Homo sapiens: one gene and its partner. The protein of the gene in region 2 purifies or fractionates together with the protein of the main gene of each other region. This does not show direct contact. Each region holds a gene or a part of one and is shown on either strand. Other genes may lie near its edges.

What was found.
Region 1: the proteins of DHRS9 (region 2) and TTYH3 purify together in Homo sapiens (affinity purification with mass spectrometry; 3 studies listed by BioGRID and IntAct, with this or other methods). This does not show direct contact.

The regions. Positions count from the first base shown.
Region 1 is NC_000007.14:2,627,667-2,634,995, forward strand, and holds the start of TTYH3 (protein tweety homolog 3), read left to right. Parts: upstream 1-4,319; 5' UTR 4,320-4,489; coding exon 4,490-4,612; intron 4,613-7,329. UniProt on the Homo sapiens protein: Calcium-independent, swelling-dependent volume-regulated anion channel (VRAC-swell) which plays a pivotal role in the process of regulatory volume decrease (RVD) in the brain through the efflux of anions like chloride and organic osmolytes like glutamate.
Region 2 is NC_000002.12:169,065,711-169,072,566, reverse strand, and holds the start of DHRS9 (dehydrogenase/reductase SDR family member 9), read right to left. Parts: upstream 3,005-6,856; 5' UTR 2,850-3,004; intron 1-2,849. UniProt on the Homo sapiens protein: 3-alpha-hydroxysteroid dehydrogenase that converts 3-alpha-tetrahydroprogesterone (allopregnanolone) to dihydroxyprogesterone and 3-alpha-androstanediol to dihydroxyprogesterone. Also plays a role in the biosynthesis of retinoic acid from retinaldehyde.

The DNA.
Region 1 (7,329 bases), on a different chromosome or scaffold from region 2:
AGGGAGGAAGGGCCCCTGGAACTAGGCTGAACCCTGGTTCCCTGACCAGCTTGTGATTCTCAAGGCCTCCCATGCAATGGCGGGGACCGGGCCTCAGTTGCTCCGTCTGTAGAGTGGGACTAAAGTCCAGCCTCCAGCCACAGTGGTTGCAGGACAGATGGGAAGAACCACACAGCTCTGGGCAGTGACTGTCGGGTCAAAGCAGGTGGGATGGTGGGCGGAGCTTCCTCCATGCCCTGGCCCACACTAGATCCTCTCTCTGGCCTTCTCTCCTTTACCCTTCCTGGCAGCTGGAGGGAGGGACCCACGGAGTTTCTCTTCAACACCCGGATCCCAAGCAGCATTGCACGGGGGTGAGGTAGGGACTCTGGCTGTGTTCTTCCAGAACCTTCACTGTGGGCCCCTTATTCTCTCCACCCTGGATCCCTTTTACCAAATTCTTCCTCCACAGGCCCCTTAGGAATAGATTTCATGGCCCAAACACACTGCAAATATTACTCAGTCATCAGTACCTTTTCATCCCATACCATCAGAGGCACAGGGCGCTGGCCACCAGGAAGCTCTGAGAAAGCCGGTGTGTTTGTTTCTGGATTTGCCGTGACAAAGCTCCACAAACTGAGTGGCTTCAAACACAGACATGCATTGTCTCACGGTTCTGGAGGCCAGAAGGCTGAGATTGAGGCGGGGCGCTCTGAGGGAGGGAGCGCCCCAGGCTTCTCTGCCAGCTTCTGGTGGCCCCTCGGCGTTCAGGGCTGTGGCGGCATCCCTGAGATTCTGCCTCCGTGTTCACACGGGTGCTTCCCTCTGTGTCTCTGTATCTCTGAGTCTGTGTCCAAATTTATCTTTTCTTATAAGGACACCATCTTTGCATTAGAGAACACTTTAACCCAGTATGACCTCATCTTCACTGGATTACATTTGCAAAGACTCTCATTTATTTATTATTTTTTTGAAATGGAGTTTCACTCTTGTTGCCCAGGCTGGGGTGCAATGGCGTGATCTCGGCTCACTGCAACCTCCGTCCCCCCGGGTTTAAGCTGTTCTCCTGCCTCAGCCTCCTGAGTAGCTAGGATTACAGGTGCATGGCACCACGCCCAGCTAATTTTGTAATCTTAGTAGAGACAGGGTTTCTCCATGTTGGTCAAAGTGGTCTGGAACTCCCAACCTCAGGTGATCCGCCCGCCTCAGCCTCCTAAAGTGTTGGGATTACAGGCATGAGCCTGTCACCCAGGCTGGAGTGCGGTGGCACGATCATAGCTCACTGCAGCCTAGATCTCCTAGGATCAAGTGATCCTCCCGCCTTAGCCTCCCAAGTAGCTGGAACTACTGTGGTGGCACAAGCCACCACACCCAGCTGATTAAATTTTTTTGTAGAGAAGGGTCTCACTATGTTGTCCAGGCTGGTCTCAAACTCATGGCCTCAAGCGGTCCTCCTGCCTTGGCCTCCCAAAGTGCTCGGATTTCAGGTATGAGCCACTGCTCCCGGCCCCTTTCTTCAAAGAAGGTGACGTTCACAGGTGCCAGGAGTTAGGACTTGAACATATCTTTTTGGGGAACATAATTCAATCCACTACACCTGAGTTATCATTTCTTTCTTTCTTTTTTTTTTTTTTTTTGAGATGGAGTTCGCTCTGTCACCCAGGCTGGAGTGCAATGGCGCAATCTCGGCTCACTGCACCCTCCACCTCCCGGGTTCAAGCGATTCTCCTGCCTCAGCCTCCCGAGTAGCTGGGATTACAGGCATGTGCCACCATGCCTGGCTAATTTTTGTATTTTTTTGTAGAGACGGGGTTTCACCATTTGCCCAGGCTGGTCTCGAACTCCTGACCTCAGGCGATCTCCCCTGCCTCGGTCTCCCAAAGTGTGGGGATTACAGGCGTGAGCCACTGTGCCTGACCCTAAGTTATCATCTCACATCATGTCTGCATCAGACTTTCTGGCTTTATCAAAAGGAAAGGTACAATTTTGCCAGGCTTCTGGAAACAGGGGAAGGAACTCCTGTACCCCCTGCCTGCATGTGTGTACCCTGGCAGGGCTGCCAGGCTGGTGTGGAGGGCACTGGAGTTGTGGTGGGGGGAAGCAGGAGGTCTGTTTGTGGCCATGGGAGCTGCTGCTAACAGCAGGAACCAGAAACGATCTCAGGCCATGAGGACAATTTCTGCAGCTGGCCAGGGACTGCCCTGTTCATCCCTGGAGTTATGCGACACAGAACTCTGAGGTCAGAGTCAGCCCAGGGCACGGGCCGTGCAGGCGATCCCCTGGCTGTGGAGATGAGGTCACAGGCTGGATGCTGGAGCAGTGTCAGGCTAGGAGTGGGCGTCCTGCCTAAGCCACCTGTTCACAGTGAGCAATCAGCTGGCGCCAAAGAAGAGGACTCACCTGGCCAGGTACCAGCCCACTCCAAGTAGGTAGCCTTGGTCTTAGGGGGTTGGGGGGGGCTTCATTCTGCCTGGAGCTCCCACCATCCTTGGCATTGGAGAGAGAGGAACCTGAGCCAGTATCCCCACCCCACCCCAAATTTCTGGCTCTTCGGCCTTTAGGGATGGAGAATGCGACCTCCCCCCTTCTGCCTGGCTGTTATTTCCCAGCTGGGTGGTGTCTCCAAGTTATCCAGCGGGTGGAAACCGCAGCTCAGCTAGTCCCTCTTGCCCGGTGCCCTATCACAGGAAAACAGGCGAGTCAGGGCAGTCAATGAGCCAAAGTCCAGGCCTCCTGGGAAGACACTGCCCGGAACCGTCCCTGCCTGCAAAGAGCTCTTCCTGCCAGGAACGGCCTGCCTGCCCACAGAGCTGGCCAAGTCGGGCACAGCAGATGGTGGAGCCCGGGTGTGGAAACCTGTTTCTCAGTACACAGGAGGTCCAGGAATAAGGCCCCAGGTGATGAAGCAGAGCCAGGATGCACCCACTGCCCTAGAGTGCGGAGGGAGGCGTGCACCTGGGCCCAAGCACGCACTATGTCCATCCTCCTGGCTCTGGCAGCTCCCATCTCCCCTTTAGCAAAGGAGGAGGCACAGGCATGGGGAGGCCCTGTTAGGAAATTTGGCTGTGTGGCTCCAAAGCCCATGATGGGCCCTCTCTGGCAGGTGCCTGAATTTTTAGGCCCCAGGACACCAGAACAGGGCACCGTCTTCATCTTAGGTCTTGACAAAAGACTCAACCTTCCCCAGAGGGAAGGCCGGATGGGGACTGAATCTACCTGCGGATCCACTTAACACTCGTACCTTTTTAAAAAAAATTTTTTTTATTTTTGAGATGGAGTCTCACTCTGTTGCCCAGGTTGGAGTGCAGTGGCGCAATCTCCACTCACCGCAACCTCCATCTCGCAGGTCCAAGCAATTCTCCTCCCTCAGCTTCCAGAGTAACTGGGATTACAGGCGCCCGCCACCACGCCTGGCTAATTTTTGTATTTTTAGTAGAGACGGGGTTTCACCATTTTGGCCAGGCTGGTCTCGAACTCCTGACCTCAGGTGATCCGCCTGCCTCGGCCTCCCAAAGTGCTGGGATTACAGGCATGAACCACCACCACGCCCTGCCAACACTCGTAGCTTTATCATCCCCTTTTACAGACAAGGACACCGATGCACAGAGTGGTTAAGTAACTTGCCCCAGATCACACAGCTCTAGGTGCCCCAGCCAGGCCCTGAATCCAGATCATGTCCATTGTACAGATAGGCCACTCGGTGCCTTGCTGGGCGCTGCGGGCTGTGGGCTGTTGTGTGTGCAATGGGGAGGCCAAGACCAGCCCAGCCCACCAGGCCGGACCCTCGAGTCAAATAAGAAACATGCAAAGATCCAAACGAAGAGCGAATTCATGGAATGAAGCGCAGCTGCATATGCAGCCAGGGTTCCAGCCCCCACGGCCACGTGGAAAGACTGGCTGGCCCGGGTCTTACAGCGCTGAGGGTCGGTCTTCCAGCGCCTTAGGGGCCAGGCGTCCCTCCAAGAAGGCGAGGAAGTAGGCGGAGCTTCTGCCGGCGGACTAATGACGGTACAGAGGCGGGGCCGAAGGGCGGGGACACGTGGAGGGGCGGGGCCATTGGGTAATGGGCGGGGATGCGAGTGGAGGGGCAAAACCATCAGGTAAAAGGACCAATAGAGGTTCAGGAGCGAGTGGGCGGGGCACGCTGTGGGGCGGGATCGGCGGGGGATAGACCAATGGTGGGTAAGAGGCGGGACAGAGGGCGGGGCGCGCGGGGGCTGGGCTGGCGGGAGGCGGGCCAATGGAGGCTCGGGGGCGGGGCCGGCGGGCGGACGGGCGGGGGTGCGGAGGGGGCGGCGGCGGCGGCGGCGAACAAAGAGGCGGCGGGCGCGGGCGGCCGAGCGGAGCCGAGCGCAGCCGAGCCGGGCCGAGCCGGGCCGGGCCGGGCCCAGGAGCGCGCGGATGATGCGGGCGGCCAGGCGGGGGTCGACGGGTCCCTGAAGCCCGCGCCCCGGGCCAGCAAGGGAGCCCCGCGCAGGCCGCGCGCATCCGGAGGCGGCCGGGCCCCGCCATGGCCGGGGTCAGCTACGCGGCGCCCTGGTGGGTGAGCCTCCTGCACCGGCTGCCCCACTTCGACCTGAGCTGGGAGGCCACTAGCAGCCAGTTCCGGCCCGAGGACACCGACTACCAGCAGGTGACATGGGCCTCTCGGGGTCGCGGGGTCAGGGACCCCAGGTCACGGCCCCCTCCTCTCCCAGGGTCACGGCCCCCATCCCCGAGGGCCTAAAGACCCCTCATCCCCCCCTCCAGGGTCACGGCCACCTCCTCCTCGCAGGTACCGGCCTCCTTCCTTCTCGAGGGTCCCTTCTGAGTCCTAGGACCCTTTCTTCCAGGGTCATGGCCTCCTCCTCAAAGGTCTAAATACCCTCCAACCCCCAGTGAGGGTCCACGGCCCCCCTCCCGATTCTGGCCTTCCCTTCTGGTGTCACTAAGGCCCCTGGGTTTCATGGAGCTGCCTCTCCCCACTCCGTGAGCCCCCTTGGCCAGTGGAGGGCCTCTCCACCATCACTGTTGGCGGCCTGGTGCTGTGTCCCAGCAGAGACCCCTCCCCAGATGACCCCCAGGCTCTGAGATCAGAGCGGGTGCCTGAGCACATTGGGTGCAGGCAGGCAGAGACTCCTCGCCCACTCACCCCCGACTGGGGAATCCCACTGCCAGGCTTCCAGTGGGTGAATGGCCTGGGCCGCCGCCAGCCCTCTGTGGCCGGTAATGACCCCCTGCTTGGCGGTCAGGCTGTGGGATGTACACAGGGTGCCGTGTGTGGCCGTGGGAGACCAGGCTGCCTGTAGCCCCCGGGGGAGGGAGGCCCGGCGGCCAGGAAGCACCGTGGGCCTCAGGCAGGGAGGCTGGAAGCGGCTGAGCCCAGGCAGACCTGGGGGGCGGCTGGGGGCCCTTTGCAGCCCTCTCCCAGGGGAGCCCTTAGCCTGGCATCATGCCAGGCCCCAGCACCACCCCCATCGCCAAGCTACTGTCATTTGAGTGCGGGGCAGGGGACCAAGCTGTGGGCATTTCCTTCCTGCCTAGAGATCCGGATTCCAGAAGCCCCGTGACCAGGGTCCCTGGTCACCCGGAGTTTCTCTCTGGACGGATCATGGCAGAGCCCCATGGTGGGGTGGGGATGGCTTTGCTTATCAAAATGGCTTGGGAATCCGGTATTCCGCGGGCAGCCTAGCACCTGGACTCTTCAGAACTGCGTTGTCTGTGGCCTCCCGCATCCAGAGGAGGGAGGCGGAAGTGGAGGAGCAGGGCACCTGGGAGCCCACTGCTCCCAGCCTCGCGCTCACTTGCACCCAGGCCCCCCAGCCGAGCCGATGACGTTTCCTAACAGATGAGGAAGGGGGCGAGGGATCGGCCCAGGCACGCCCAGACACAGCAGGGAGGAGGGAGGCGGAAGGATTGGTATAAAATCTCACGCCTGCGTTCTAGAAGCCCAGCCCTGGGGGACCGTTCAGTGTGGGGGCAATGCACATTCAGGAACTTCTGGAACTTATTCCATGCTGATGGCTTTGCCACTTGTCCCTGGAGGACTCTGTTGAAGCTGCAAGGAGGGTGTGCTTCACTTTGGAAAGTTCTCTGCCCTGAGGGTTTGGCCCATTTGTCAGTTCTTAAGCTCCGGGGCAGCCCTGGGGCGTGGGGGGCGGCTGTTTCCTGCTGCCCCTTGGGCTGCCACCTGCCCGAGCTGCCAGCCACAGTTGGACTTCCTTCCAGCCCTCCGGGGTGCCTGCATTCCCACATTCGAGACAGGCAGTGAGAGGGAGTGAGGGGCGATGATGTCTGCAGCCCACAAGAGCCTCCGGGCAGTAGCCAGGCCCCTCTGCTCAGCCTGACCTGCCTGGCCTCCAGCAGGGTGCTATGGCCCTGGGAGGCCCTGGCTTCTGCCCCCTTTCCTCCCCTGCCCTGCGCTCTGCTCTGCTGTGGGAGGGCTCTGACTCACTCTCTCTCCTGCCTCATCTCCACAGAGCAGAATTAGCCACTGAATAATTCACGATGTGGAAACCGGCCTGCCTCCATCCCCCGCCGCCTCCACTCCCGGCTCTTGGCGAGGGGCTGTGGCGTGAGCTGGTCCTGGCGTGCGTCCTGCCCCTGCCCTTCCAATACTGGTGCTTTTCGGCAACTGCTTGGTGTCTCTGAGCCTTCATTGCCTCATCCTGAATCTGGGCTGGCCGTGCCTCCTGTGTAGGGTCACCCCTGGGAGGCAAGGGCCAGGAGCCCCCTTCCTGGGAGAATGGGCAGTGGGTGGGCCTGGGCTGTGGCAGGCGCCCCTTCCTGCCTCCCCTGGTGAGGAGTTGCTGGCTGTAGTGGGGGGTGGACCCCTCACCCATCCTGACTGAGGGCTCCCTCTTAGCTGTCTCTGTGCTGCCCCAACCTGGGCTGTGCCCTGCTGGGGAGTGGGCATCTGCCCCGTGGTTATGGGGGCGGGGGGATGGAGGGGAGGTGGGGCCTGGGGTTGGGAGTTGGGGGTGTGGCACGGGGGACTGGCCTTTGTCCTTTGCTATTTCTGGCCCCCGTGGTCTGCTGTTGGGAACCCTGGTGAAACCCCCGGAGGGACCAGGGCCAGGTCCTGTTTCAAGGCCCTGCGTGGGACTGCCTGTCACTAGTCACTTTTCCCACAGCCCCAGGAGGTGGGGAGAGTTGTCCATTGTACAGATTAGCAAACTGAGGCTCCGAATCACATAGTGAGTAAGTGGTGGGGCCGCAGCCCTGCTGTAGGTCCCTCGTCCGGCCCCCCGAGGAGCCGGGGTCAGCCTGGAGTCGCAGGCTCCCCGGATTCCCCCACGGCTGCCTTGCCGCTGGGGGTGTGACCGTGGGATTAGAAGCTGATGGGGGCTGAGGGAGCTGTGAGAGGGCAGG
Region 2 (6,856 bases):
AAAGTTAAAATAGGATTATTTAATTTCACTTCTCTTATTCACCTTCCTCTGTTTCTTAAAAATAAATGACACAGTTTAAAAAAAAGAACAGAAAATATCTCAATATTATTGTGAGGTATACTTTTTATAAGCAATGTAGAGTTCTTTCTAGATAGTTCCTCCCAGACCAGTTGATTTTATTTCCACATAACTTCATGAAGTGTTTCCTTTTAGAAAGCGATACCAAAGCTAGTCAACCACACTGTCAGGAGTTTGTAGAATCTTTATTTACTTCCAATGTGTTGCAATTGTGGCCCAAGTTGAATCAACAACTATGTTGTTTACCAAAATACATCAAATAGAAAACATTGAGCAATGATTTTCTAAAGTATTCTCTTTTTGGAGTTCTCTTGCATGGCTTTCTGAATACTGAAAGCCACTGAACATGTATGCCTCTTGTATATTTGAATATTGTAAACCCGGTTGACTTAACACAACATTCCTTTTTCATTTTTTCCTTTTCATTGAAGTAAAAAAAAACTGGTTTTTGTTTTGTTTTGTTTAAAAAAAAAAAAAAAACCCAGGTGGCTTTTAGAGATTTCTTCCACACTTAAAAAAAAATGAACACTGGAACCTATTGACATAAACTAAAAAATTATGTTTCTGTGAGAAATGTGTTCAAATGGTCCACCCAGAAATCTGAAAAAAAAATTTTTTAATGGCACCAAGGGACCCTACATTAAATGTGCTTGCATTAAGCAACGAATGCTTTTTTGAGAGTCTGACTGAAATAACAATTATAATAATTATTATGCTGCTGATGATATAGTTGAGTTGGTATTTATCGTCGTGGGAGGGTAAGTTCCCTTACTCAATGGATGAAGAAGCTCCTCCTCTGGTTAGTTACATTTGCCCTTGATTCCTGCTTCCCTGAGGGCAGGAGGTAATCCTTGGCAGCCAGACTGTGCTTTGGGTACTGGGACAGCGAGGCATGGAGTTCGTGTGTACTTCCACTACAGATTCACTCAGACAGCCTCCTCAGGATGTAGCTTCCCTCCCTCCTAGCAGAGGTGTACCAACTGCCTCAAATAGGGAAGATCTGCTGGATTTACATTTTGCATTTTTAGTTCTAAGGATAAAAGCATCTCTGATTTTCTTTTGCCTTCCTTCAAAACGTTTAAATTATAATTCACCATCACATCCCTAACTATTCATTAATTATCCCAAGTCCCTCCTAGGTTTATTATTTTGACAATGTTTCCTGACAGTATTAGCAGGTTACAAATTATTGTTAAAGCTATGATTACTTTATTTATGGTCACTGCATAACAATTGCTATCTGGGAAAGATTATATGTTGTGTACAGTTATCATTTGTAGTCACAAGGCTTTAAGGAAAGCTTAGAACATAGAACATATGTATAGGTTCCAAAAGTGTGTTTAAAACTTCAGTATATTTCAGCCACAGTGATCTTTGAGCAGAAGAAAAGGTCTGAGTTTTTTGTTGTTGTTGTTTTTTTTTTTTGAGACGGAGTCTCGCTCTGTCGCCCAGGCTGGAGTGCAGTGGCGTGATCTCAGCTCACTGCAAGCTCCACCTCCCGGGTTCACACCATTCTCCTGCCTCAGCCTCCCAAGTAGCTGGGACTACAGGCGCACGCTGCCACGCCTAGCTAATTTTTTGTATTTTTAGTAGAGACCAGGTTTCACCGTGTTAGCCAGGATGGTCTCGATCTCCTGACCTTGTGATCCGCCGGCCTCGGCCTCCCAAAGTGCTGGGATTACAGGCATGAGCCACCGCGCCCGGCCAGGTATGCGTTTTTAAACACTGTCCCTTAAGACAGTGACATTTGTTATAAGAGTTTTAACACCAGTTCCCATTTCCTACTCTTGAAATATATGAGTTAATGATTTTTTTGTGTGTACTTAAACATTGAAATTTGTTCTAAAATCTGAGCACCCTCTTTGAATATTAAAAATAGAATAGAAAGGTGGTATAACATTTAACTTTGATTTGATGCAGCGTGTAGCCAAGGAGATTTTTAGAGCAGTTAATATATGCCGAGGGATACTAGGATAAATAGTACAGAAGCACAATCTGTGCCCTTGGTCTAACAGTGTAGTGGGACATTTCAGAGCCATTTGTACAACTCTAACTTGATTGTTGATTTTAAAATGTATTTATTGAAGCACACCTCCTAAACATCAAGTCATTGCGAAAGGAGCCATATCATCATTTGAAAAACCAAACCACCGGATCATAAAATGGGGAGTAAATATCTAAAGCAGGCTTATTGCTGCCACCCCTGGATCCAGGGATCAAATATGAATTGTTGGGAATTTCCCTGCTTTTTTATGACCTACAAGGCATTTTTTCCCCTCAGTTTAGTGAATATGTGTGTGTATTCATGTAAACTTACATCTGATAATATTGATAAAGCGGACAGACAAACAGATCAGACCTGCAGTTGACAGAGAATCTGCTGCTTCAGTAAGAAACTCATCTAAGAATCCTGTGCTTTTTGGAGACTTCCCCCTCCAGTTTCCAATTAATCATAAGATTCACAGATAGTGTCAAGAAGGCACAGAGAAAATAAAATATGAATTGAATTGGGACACTAGGGTGCTAAAGGACATTCAAAGAGAGTCCTGGAGGAGTTCAAGGCAAGATCCCAGGTCACACCGAGGTCATTTCTATGGTGAGATGGACCCAGCTCCCATCACTGGGTTCTAATGTGTTACATTAAAAGAAGTAGCAACATTGACCACAGCTTGAAAGACCACCGATTCATTCTGCAAGAGTGAGGAAAATCAAAGAAAGTTTAGATTGACTTGATAAATAAAAGAATAAATGACAAAACTGTCATCAGTTACCTTATTAAAGATGAAGTGGGACACAGAAACTGTTGGTGGACTTGCTCAGCTGATGGCAGCTTTCCTGCTGTGCACGGGGAAGGAAGAGTTGTGCCACCCTGGCCAGGCTGATCCTCTTGAGGTCGAGGTGCCTGGGTTTCCGTAGAGCTCTGAGTACTACATGTGTGAGGAATCCTCAGGTTCTCTCCTTGCTCTGTGAGTCACTCCCATTGTGACACAACGTGATGACTAAATATCTCTTGAATAGCTCATAAAAGCCAAGAAGCTGTAGGTCGCATGTTTCAAAAGGAATCAGCAGTATAAATTTAGCTACTTTTAGAAGAGACTTTAAAATGATCAATAACATTCATTTTATGATTAGTACAATCTCTTGACCAAATTCAGCAGCAGAAATAATATAACAAAGAAATAAATATTTTGTAAACTGCCTGGTGCGTGGTTTTAATAGTTTTCAAATTGTGATTATTCTTCATAATCTCCATTTTTTCCTTCCTGTTAGCATGCCTTGGCTTATTTAACACTCCTTCCCTCCTAAGAGAATAAGTAGGAGAAATCAGTCTCTGAGATTGGTGTTACCATTTTTTTTAAGATGGGCGAGCAAGGAGATAAAAACAACATAATAAAATGAGGTTTTGGAATTACTTATGGGTCTTAATTTATGTTTTAAGGTATGACAAGGAGAGCTTACTAAAGTGGTCTCTGGAACTGAGACCGCTGAGAATAGGAAAGGATGCCTCCTCCCCTCCCAGAGTTTGTCTGTGTCAGAGTTGATCACAGTTGACCTGGCGTATCCTGGGACCACAGTGGAAAGTACTGAGGCCGCAGGCGAGGAGGGGAGGAGATGGTGCTAATCTAGCCTGCCACCCTTCACCTTCACCACTGTAGCCACTCAGGCAGGTACAAATACCACTTTGCTGATTTTTCATTTTCAGTTTCCTCGTATACCAGTTTGTTGCTATACTCTTCTGATTTCCCAGACTCTGTATTCCTCCTTTGAAAATTGCAGTTATTATGGTTCAACTGGAATGAGCACATGAATGAACATATCTGTCTAGGTAGAGTCAGGACACTGCTATCACCCTTTAAAATAAGTAGTGGTCTTTTTTCTTTAAAAGAACAACAAACCCACTTTGGGAGGCCAAAGCGGGCGGATCACTTGAGGTCAGAAGTTTGAGACTAGCCTGGCCAACATCGTGAAACCCCATCTCTACTAAAAATACAAAAAATTAGCCAGGCATGGTGGTGGGCACCTGTAATCCCAGCAACTTGGTAAGCTAAGACAGAATCTCTTGAATCTGGGAGGCCAAGTTGCGTGTGAGCCAAGATCGCGCCATTGCCCTCCAGCCTGGGTAACAGCGTGAGACTCCGTCTCAAAACAAACAAAAACAAACAAACAAACAAACTGAAATTTACTCAGGTTCACATTTAGGGTGCCCCAAATGTGCTAAATATGCTTTTTCCTCTTTAGCATTTCATAAGTATGGCTTAAATATAAAACCTCATAGACAATACATTGACTTAGAGCCACATGAAGTAAGGTATAAATAATTAATACTGAACCCTTCCTGTGAGCCTGTTATTGTCACTAAGAGGAGAAGAGAGCCTCATGCACCTGGGTGGTCATGCAGTGTTAACTGAAAAGGGCAAAGAAAAAGTTATAACAATAGTTAAAATTTTGCTACTTAATGAACTCGCCTAGTGCAGCCGTGTTTCAAAAACTTTCCAAATAGACTTAAAAAAAGTCAAATGTTTAGACTGATTTGCATATTGGAAATTAGAATTCTTGCCATCTATCTGGCTTGTCCCTCAATTCCTGTGGGCCCAACTCATGGGTTCAGTTTCAGTATATGGCACCACAGCCAGAACACCCCCTCTCCTTGTCCAATGGTCCCACATAGGCGATCAGTTAATGAAGTCATGTTAGCAGTGTCTTATCCAGACTGTAACCATATACACATTCAAATTCATATCTCAAGTGCCAAGTTGTCTTTCATTTCACCTCTTTAATATACAACCTTTGAAAGTGCTACTTTGTTCAGAACTCATCCTACATTGACTTCAGATCAAAGATCACATTAAAAAAAAAATCTGGAACCAAATTGCCATTTGAGTTTTTTCCTAGTTCCTTTTTAAAACAAAGGAGTGCACTGTGCATTTTATTTTAATGTTTGTAGGTGGAATGTAAGTATACAGTGGTAAGGCTAGATGCCACCACAGACAACACACTAAAGATAGAGTTATCCTTTTTCTTCTGAATCTGTATGCCTCCCATACTTCTACCCAAGAGTATCTTCTCCACCCCTTTCCAAATACCAAAACATAAGGAGGAAACTCAGATCTGAGGCTGTCTCAGGAGACATACGTTAGGCTTCCTGCAACTACACCATTCTGGGGATGGTCTAAGTCACAGATCATTCTAAGATGAGCTTCAACTGGAGGAAAGCACTTACTCCAGTGTGCAGGCTGTGGTGGGTCCAACTTCTGGAGTATATCCAGTGTCACTCTTGTAAGGCTGACCAGGAGGGTGAGGCTGGTGATAGAGCATGCACAGTGGCTTCTTCCTTCTGGCATAATGATGTAATCCTCTCTCTCAAGTCATTCTCAGTGGAACATGTTTCTCTGAACGACTATAAGCTGCTATGAAGACTTCATGTTTTAAAAGTGTACTTTATATTTTCTTCCTCCTCCCTTTGTCAACAGGGAGTTCTCTTATTTCTACTGTAAAGGGAACCTGTACTTTGGTTCCCTTTTTATACAAACAATGCCTTTGACATTTGAGTAGCTTCTTTGGCTAGGCTTGGTCAAAACCAGGAGCTTTGTTACCCATTTGGCCTTTCATGACTCTCCCAGCTGTAAGATGAAGCAGGGCTAATCTTTTGTTTTTCTCTACTATGCAATCTTTAGATATACAAATAGAGATGGAGTCATGGGAACATTTGATAGATTCTTTGAATAAAGATTTTTCTTATTTACAGAGCACATATCCTTTTAGCTTACCCAACAAGAGGTCCTGCGTTGAAAAGTGAAGTGAGAAGTATTATATGGGGAATTATTGTTCTGGTAGATGGAGCAAGAGAGAAGATAGGTGAGAATGAAAGTAACAAATGAACAGAAACACTGTGGATTTTCAGCAACTTGAAAGAAGGAAAGGTGAAGGCTAAGAAAATGTGTCTGTCACAGAGGGAGGGAGGTGGGTGCTCCTTCTGGTATGACCATCACATGTTCACATGTGAGCATTAAAAATTTTTTTCCTGGCTTAAGAATGATCTTCCTGCCAAGTTTCCTAGTTTCTTTCAATCCCTTTCAAAAAGAAGGCAACTTCTTTTTCCCAGAATCTTAACTGAGATGATAAAATATCAAATGAAATTAAGAGCAGATGCTAGATGCAGCTGATTGTGTAATATGCAAGTACTATCCAGTGGGAAAGAACTCACGGGGATTCATGAAGTGGGGAGGAGTGAGTTAGAGACAACTGTCTTCAGATCCTGTTTGGCTTGTTCTGGACTTTGTTTTGGGTTGTTCTGGACTTCAGACCCTGTTTTGGGTTGTTCTGGGCTTTGGTTCTGTGTGAGGCCTATTTGGCTAAAAAGATCCAAAGATGAATAGAAAGGGGCCTTTCTATTGAGGAATAATTCACTGTTAGCTCATTTATTGCTGAGTAAGGAATCTCATAGACTTTCCCCTCTCCTTGGAGAACCCCTGATTCTTGCTGGCTCCTTGAGACTATTTAAGATTGTGGGGGAAAGGGCGATCTTATCCTTTGCTGATGGATATGTGAATTGCTACAGCCTTTTTTGAAAGCTGTCCAGAAAAAAAATCTGTTAAAATAAAAAGCTACTATTTGAGACAAAAATCCTGCTCCTAGGATTCTATCCTATATAAATGTATATAAGTGTATATGAACAGGATGGGGCAAAAAGAACTGGGAGCAAAGCAAGTGCCCACTAGTAGTGAGATAACTGAATAAATTGTGGTACATATGCACAGTGGAATATTATTTTGCAGCC